Homo sapiens: one gene and its partner. The protein of the gene in region 1 purifies or fractionates together with the protein of each later gene. This does not show direct contact. Each region holds a gene or a part of one and is shown on either strand. Other genes may lie near its edges.

Evidence for each region.
Region 2: the proteins of TMEM170A (region 1) and ADGRG1 purify together in Homo sapiens (affinity purification with mass spectrometry; one large-scale study listed by BioGRID and IntAct). This does not show direct contact.

What each region holds. Positions count from the first base shown.
Region 1 is NC_000016.10:75,447,547-75,451,360, reverse strand, and holds part of TMEM170A (transmembrane protein 170A), read left to right. Parts: intron 1-3,672; coding exon 3,673-3,803; 3' UTR 3,804-3,814. UniProt on the Homo sapiens protein: Acts as a regulator of endoplasmic reticulum (ER) and nuclear envelope (NE) morphogenesis. Affects the ratio between tubular ER and ER sheets by promoting sheet formation at the expense of tubules.
Region 2 is NC_000016.10:57,631,597-57,635,410, forward strand, and holds part of ADGRG1 (adhesion G-protein coupled receptor G1 isoform b precursor), read left to right. Parts: intron 1-3,814. UniProt on the Homo sapiens protein: Adhesion G-protein coupled receptor (aGPCR) for steroid hormone 17alpha-hydroxypregnenolone (17-OH), which is involved in cell adhesion and cell-cell interactions.

The DNA of each region.
Region 1 (3,814 bases):
TTGCCCGGGTCTCGAACTCCTGAGCTCAAGCAATCTGCCCACCTTGGCCTCCCAAAATGCTGGGATTACAGGCGTGAGCCACTGTGCCTGGCCCAGTTTTTTTAATGTATTGATTTTTTTTTTCCACCCCCAAGGTCCTATTACTTGGCTAACCTCTTTGACTTCTTGAGTCAGATTTCATCTCAGTGGCTTCAGGGAAGTCATGTTAAACTTTGTGAGATATATCTCGTGAGAGAGGCCACCAGCAAGAGGAAAATTTATCTTTTTGGAAGCTACTTCTCCTCTCTGATCAGCTATCACTTGAGCATTGGCCCTGCAAGATGGTTGGTGAATTACTTCCACTCATGTGGGTGTGGTTGCTGTAAAGATAGAAGACAAATTTTGATGACAAGAATTCTTTGCCAGGTGTAGTGGCTCATGACTGTAATCCCAGCACTTTGGGAGGCAGAGGTGGGAGGCTTGCTGAAGCCTAGGAAATTGAGACTAGCCTCAGCAACATAGCAAGACCCCATCTCTACAAATAAAAATAAAAAATTTAGCTGAGTGTGGTGGTGTGTACCTGTGGTTCCAACTACGTGGGAGGCTGAAATGGGAGGATTGCTGGAGCCAGGAGGTCCAGGCTGGGCTGCAGTGAGTCGTGATCACACCACAGCACTCCAGCCTGGGCCACAGAGCAAGACCCGGGGGAAAAAAAAAGAATTCTTGCTTAGAAAAGTACCCGATTAGTGCTCTAGTTATTTTTTTCCCCTTAGGACTTTCTGAATAAGAATTGGAGTAACATGATGTTATGAATTATTTTCAGGCTTGTTTTTGGGGCGTTTGGTTTGTTATGGCTTTTGCTTATGGGATAAGAAACAGTTACAGAAATGAGAACAATAAGTTTAAATCATTTCAAAGCTCATGCATAAATATAAATGTGTATTTTATATAAACTGAAAATTCTAAGTAATTAAAATGTAAAATCCTCCATTTTCTCATCCCTAAATAATAGCCACAGTTTACATCTTGGTGTGTATTTCTTTTTTTAGGTATAGATGTAAACATAAATACATTTTTATAATATAGAAATGTAATATTCCTACTGATTTGTAACTTTTTTTCACTGTGAATTGAAACCTTAGCATCAAGCAGAAATCGCCCTCTATGTCTTTGACTTGAGGTGTTTTTTTTTTTTTTTTTTGAGAGAAAGTGGCCTAGTTTCTCTGTGTTCTAACTGTATCACCTACTGCTGCTTTGGAGACCCTCTGCCCCAGGATGACTGGCTGCTAGGGCCTGTCTTAGTTTGTTCCTCAGTAAAATAGGGGTAATACTACCCAACCTCATACCCTTGCATGATTGAGCTAATGTGTATATGATGTAATACCTGACACATAGTAATTGTCGAATAAATGTTGTATTCATTTCTGTCTTTAAGGCTCTATGAATAGTCTGTTCCCTTTCCATTTGCTGCTCTCTTGGATATACTTTTTCCTTTCTTCGCTTCATTATCCCAATCCCACTTTAGGGCCCAGTTCAAGTTCCTTAAGCTTCTTTCTATCCAACCCAGTCTTTCTTGTGTACCTAAATTTTGGAGGGGCCCAATGAAACATGTCTTTCAGATGTTAGTAACAAAATGTACGCATTGCCAGTGGAGCTGGGCATTTTAAATCACTAAATGTTCAAGGCAGCCAACCTTTGGTTAATATTGTTCTTTCTTCTTGTTAAAATATGTTAATATACCTTCACATCACATTTGTGAAATGTGCCAGGCATGGTGGCTTATGCCTGTAATCCCAGCACTTTGGGAAGCCAGCTTGGGAGGATTGCTTAAGTCCAAGAGTTCAAAACCAGCCTTGGCAACATAGTGAGACCCTGTCTCTACAAAAAATAAATAAATAAAATAGCCAGGTGTGGTGGCGTGTGCCTGTAGTCCCAGCTGCTCGGGAGGATCACTTGAGCCCAGGAGGTTGAGGCTGCAGGGAGCCATGATCATGCCACCGCATTCCAGCCTAGGTGAAAGAGTGAGACACTGTCTCAAAAAAAAAAAAAATTGTAAACGTGATTGAGACACTGTATGTTATTTTGCATTATTGCAAATCTGTTTCTGTCTTGTGTCCCCAGCTAGATTCCAAGTACCTTGAGAATAGCGATCATACCTTATAAAACACAGAAGTGTTCTGCAGATGAAAATTGGAGTGAATGAACACACTATGACAAAGGAGAATTTTGTTGGAGCATTTTGTGGGGAGGGTCATCTGGGAAATCTGGATCTATTCTTTTCTTTTTAAAATTTTTATTATTTATTTATTTATTTTTATTTGAGAACAGGGTCTTGTTCTGTCACCCAGGCTGGAGTGCAGTGGCATAGTCACAGCTCACTGCAGCCTTGACCTCCCTAGCTCAAGTGATCCCCCTACCTCAGCCACCCAAGCAACTAGGATTACAGGCACGTTCACTACACCCAGCTAATTTTTGTATTTTTTGTAAAGACAAGGTTTGGTCATGTTACCCAGGATGGTCTCAAACTCCTGGGCTCAAGCGATCCTCCTGCCTCGGCCTTCCAAAATGATGGGATTATAGGCTTGAGCCACTGTACTTGGCCGGTTCTTTTTTTTTTTGAGACAGGATCTTGTTCTGTTGCCCAGGCTTGAGTGCAGTGTCGCGATGTGAGCTCACAACAACCTCCACCTCCTGGGTTCAAGCAGCTCTCCTGCCTCAGCCTCCCGAGTAGTAGGGATTACAGGCACGTGCCACCACACTTGGCTGATTTTTTGTATTTTTAGTAGAGATGGGGTTTCACCATGTTGCCCAGGCTGGTCTCAAACTCCTGAGCTCAGATGATCCACCCATCTCGGCCTCCCAAAGTGCTGGGATTACAGGCGTGAGCCACCGTGCCCGGCCGGATCTATTCTTTTCAAACGAATGAAATGTTAACTTTCTTGGTACACTTCCTTGGTATAATGCTGAACTCGTATAGTAACTCAAATGGGTATCTGCATAGATACAGGGGTTTTCGTTTTGTTTTTCCAATTTGCAGGAAATTATAGTGACTAGCGTAATAAAAACAATCAATGACTTGGGAGACAAAGGAATCCCTGAGTATCTCTCCTCTCATGCCCTGTGAATGAATAACAACTTTATGGCTTAGAGTCCTCCTGTCTTCCCTTTTCACCCCTCTAGTCCCTCCTCCGTCCATTTCTTGAAGGGAACTATGAGTGTGATAGAAGGTGGAGTGGGGATTCCCTGTGGCCTGAAACATTTCTTGCTTAGTCTAACTCAAAAGATCCTTTTTCATTTGTTACCAAAAATGTATTAGGTCCCTGTTGAAGGCTAGGCATGGGGTAACTGGTAGGGGAATACAGATATTTTTGAGTTCATAATCTGGTCATGTGGGAATTGCTATCTTTGTGATTTTGATTATTTCTTCCAGATTATTTTATTCAATAAATCTAGGAGACTCTGGGTTTTAAGGAGTCAGCATCTAAAAGTGATCTTGCAAGCCATGCAATGAATACTCAAAGTGTAGAGTAGTCCACAGAAAGAATAGGGAAAACCTAACATTTCTGTAAGATTTAAATTTCAGTATAAAATCTGGAACATTCTACTCGCAGTAGTATTTTAAATGTTGTATTTTCGTGAGTTTGTTAACCTTCGTTTTTTGTTTTTGTTTAACATTCTTGCATTTTAAATCAGGTGCAGCTATTGCTGGAGTTTACCGAGCAGCAGGGAAGGAAATGATACCATTTGAAGCCCTCACACTGGGCACTGGACAGACATTTTGCGTCTTGGTGGTCTCCTTTTTACGGATTTTAGCTACTCTATAGCATACATCCTT
Region 2 (3,814 bases), about 18 Mb from region 1:
GCCTTCTGACTCACAGCAGATGGGGACATCATGTGAGCAAACCCAGCAGTCAGGGGTGACCAGACACAGCAACTGGGCAGATGGCAAATGGGGGGCGGGGCGGGCTGGCACAAAGGGGTCTCTCAAACCGGGTGGGGCGGGGCTGTGGCACGGCCTCAGCCTCCCAGGCCTCCTTTCTCCTGAGCCGTCACTTGGCTGAGACCCTGCCCCTCCTCCTGTCTCTGGTGCCCCATCTGGGGCTCCTTGAGGCCCCCAGGGGAGCCCTGTAGATTCTGGTCTTAGGTCTGGACTGCTGGGTAGAGGGGCCAAGGGTTGGGGAGTAGGAAGGGACACACATTTTCTGACCACTGCCCAGTGCCAGCCTGCCCTGGCAGGAGGTCAGCTAAGCCCCAAACTCTCCCTGGTTCCCTGATGGCTCAGCCTGGATGGGAGCAATCCTGGACCTTCCCTGACCTCAGATTCTGCCAGGCCCTGGGCTCAGTGCCTTGCACACGACACCCACTTTTCAGATGAGGACATTGAGGCAGGGGAGGCTTACCCAGTGAGCAACCCCACATCTTTGGGGATCCAGAATTTGGGCTCTTGTCCCTTGGTGGAGAGGAGGCTCCTCAGCCAGCCAGGCACATGCTCGTGTCTTGAACCCTGCCCCTGCCACTGCCAAATCCACGCACCTGTAGGGTGACAGGGCCCGTAGAGACAGCAAGGGTGGCTTGCCCAGGGAGAATCTTGGCTTTGTTTCTCTCTGGTTGTGGGAACATGGGCCTGTGCCTCGGTTTCCTCATCTGTAAACTGTGGATCACAATCACATCTGCTTCAGAGGCTATTATGAGCATGAAGAGAGTTGATAGAGGAAAGCATATGGGAAAGTGCCTTTCCCATACGTGGGAATGTTAAGCCTTTTTTTAATACCTCTCCCATTGGACAGATGGCTGTATTGAGGCCCAGAGATAACCTGAAATAACTGTGAGCACTTCTCCCTGCCCCCGCTACTGCTGGGAGAGCTGCGGCCACCTGGACACCAGTGGCGCTCACTCACCCACCTCCAGCCTGACTCGTGCTTTGGTGAGGAGGCCAGTGTGGTGGGCGTCGGGCTCCCGAGCTGGCGCCTGCGCAGGCTCAGGCAGTTTGTGGTATGCTTGGCAGTTCCAGGCAGAGATAAAAGCTCAGCCCCGGAGGAGCTGGCATGCTTCCGGGCACCGGTGGACAGGCCTCTCTGCATTAGTGGGAGATGGCCTGGCGGTGGGGAGATGGCCTTGCTGTCCAAGAGCCAGCCCAACCCTGGTGGCCTGAAAAGTTCTGCGGTGAATGGCTCTGGCTTGGCTTCCCAGACTCGGGGCCACTTACACCAACTGCAAAACAAGGAACAGTGAGATAGAGAGCCGCCTCTGCCACCTCCCAGGCCCTTTCCCCTCCCGTCCCCAGGTCTCTGTCCTCCTAGTACCCCCAGCCTGGATGCTCAAGGCCCATGGGGGAAAGCTGACTTTTGAGAGGAGCTGTGGAGACTTGCATTCCACTGCCAAAGATGACAGCTTCTCTGGACCCGTTTCCCTGCCTGTAAATGGAGATAACAATACATCCCTTTGCAGGGTTGCTGTGGAATTTGGGGCAAAAGTGGCTGCAAAGTATGTACCTAGCACAGTGCATGACTTCAAGAGGTTCTCCCTAAACCTCAGCTGGAGGTTTAATCTTCCAGGTCATGGGCTCATTGACTTAGGCTCAAATCCTTGAAAAATGACTTAGAGCAAGCGGCTGAATTTCTCACAACTTCATTACTTGGGCTGTGAAAGTCTCTGATACCTAAATGCGGCTTTGTGGGGATGAACCGAGACAGCCACACGTCATAGGGGCTCATGAGACGCAGACCCTGTCCCCAGCTGTCCCAGACCTTTGCTTTTCCATCCCTCAGCCAGGCTGCCCCCTAGGAGAGGCAGCACGAGGTGGGCTGTTAGGGGTGTGGGCTCTGGGGCTGCCTGATTCTGTCCCAGCTCTACTGGCTGTGTGGCCTGGGACAGGTATATTAACCTCTCTGTGCCTCGTCTTCCTAATTGTAAACATGAGGCTGGTAATGGCATCCTGAGAGGATTAAGTGAGCCTCTGTATTTTAAGTGCTGAGTGCAGGGCTGGGCACACCTCAAGTGCTATTGTAATTGCCCCTTCTGGGCCATGACCAAGCCTTGTTCTTAGAGAGCATTGGAGACTTTATCCGGAACAATGGTGCCATCCTCCCAGGATGTTACCGGGAAAACCACCAATCCTGTGACAGCTTCCCCTTTGGACATGCCCATTCCTGGGGTCTTGATCTGCTGCCCCGAGGCATTGTCCAGCCTGGGACTCCTTCATGTTCCCCAAGACCTGAGACCTGACCCAGGTTTTGGAGTGAGTTAATGTGACCCTGGGCTGGGGAGCTGAGCTGGAGCCATTACCCACAGAACCGCCGACCTTTCAAAGGACCAGAGGCCATGGCCCTAGCCCTGGAGAGGAGGCCTGGGTTCCAGTCGAGCTGGTTTCCTGGGACAGAACAGCACTGTGGTCACTTCTCTGCTGGGTGAGTTCACCCTAGGCCCCTGGGAGCTAGGCTGAGCAGCTGACCCCTTCTGGGTCCTTGGCTGAGTCTGGGCCTCAGGGTGTGGCTCTGTGGCTGGCACCCTGGGTCTCGGACCCTGTGGCAGGGGGTCAGACAACTGCCCAGACCCACCTGCTTTGATGGTGACAGATGCTAGGGGTGAGCCCAAGGGGCTGGCAGGGGCCCCTGAGTCATGCTCAGCCCTGTGCCCTCTGCCCACTGCTCCTCTGCTGTGTCACCATCTGGGCACGGGCCAAACAGTTCAGGGGCGACTCACAGCCCAAACTTCCGCCCCTGGGGCATACACTTCACTGCCTACAAAGACCCTCATTCAATCTTGAGTGCTGCTGGCCCTCTAAGACTTGAAACTTTATCCACATTTCACAGATGAGGAATCAGGCCCAAGAGCTCGGAGCAGTCAGTGGTAGCAGAGCCCGAACCCAGTCTCCTGCCTCTTAGCCTGGACTTTTCCCCAGAGTACCACAGATGGCCATTCCCATGATAGGTAGTGAGTTCCCCACCTTTGTAGGTGTTCAAGTGTGGCAGGGGCGTTGCAGAAGCAACTTTGGCATCGCATGGGGCTCCTCTTCATGGCTGCTTCCAGCCCTGAGCTTTCCTAGCCTTGGGGGAGATGGGCACCCAATTCCCACATTCCCCGGAGTCGCTATGTCCTTAAGCATCACATGGGTCTTTCTAGCCGCATCAGGCCATGCTTGTGGGCAGGTGGTGCCTCTATCTAGAAACCCTCTTCATAGCCTGGCTGTCTGGCAAGGTTCTTCCAAGGAACCTCCACCATGAAAGCCATGAATGCATCTTCAGAGACCCCTGTCCATGTGTAAATAGCTCAGTGGGCTGGATGGGAGGGAGCAGAGGGGGAGAGGGACCCAGCTGAAGAGGACTGGAGTGAACAGGGAGAGGCTGAGGGAGGTCAGGAGGGCAGGACACCCACCTCCTGAATCTTCAGGACCCCTTGCTCTCCCTTATCCAACAGGCTTGAACCTGAATAGGGGCATTCCTGACCCCATGGCACTTCCCCTGCCCCCCACCTGCCTAGAGCCATGGGCAGTGGGCAAAGCTGGAAGAAACCCTCGTGCACAGCTTCCTCAAAGCTGTACTTATCCTATGCCATGGCTGTCCTGGCCACACCTTCTGGGGGACTCTGCCACCTGTGTGCACACCTAGGGGACCAGGTGCACACGGTCTGTCCTCCAGCTCCTCTCCTGCCTGCCTCCTGGCACCTTAAGTGGAGGT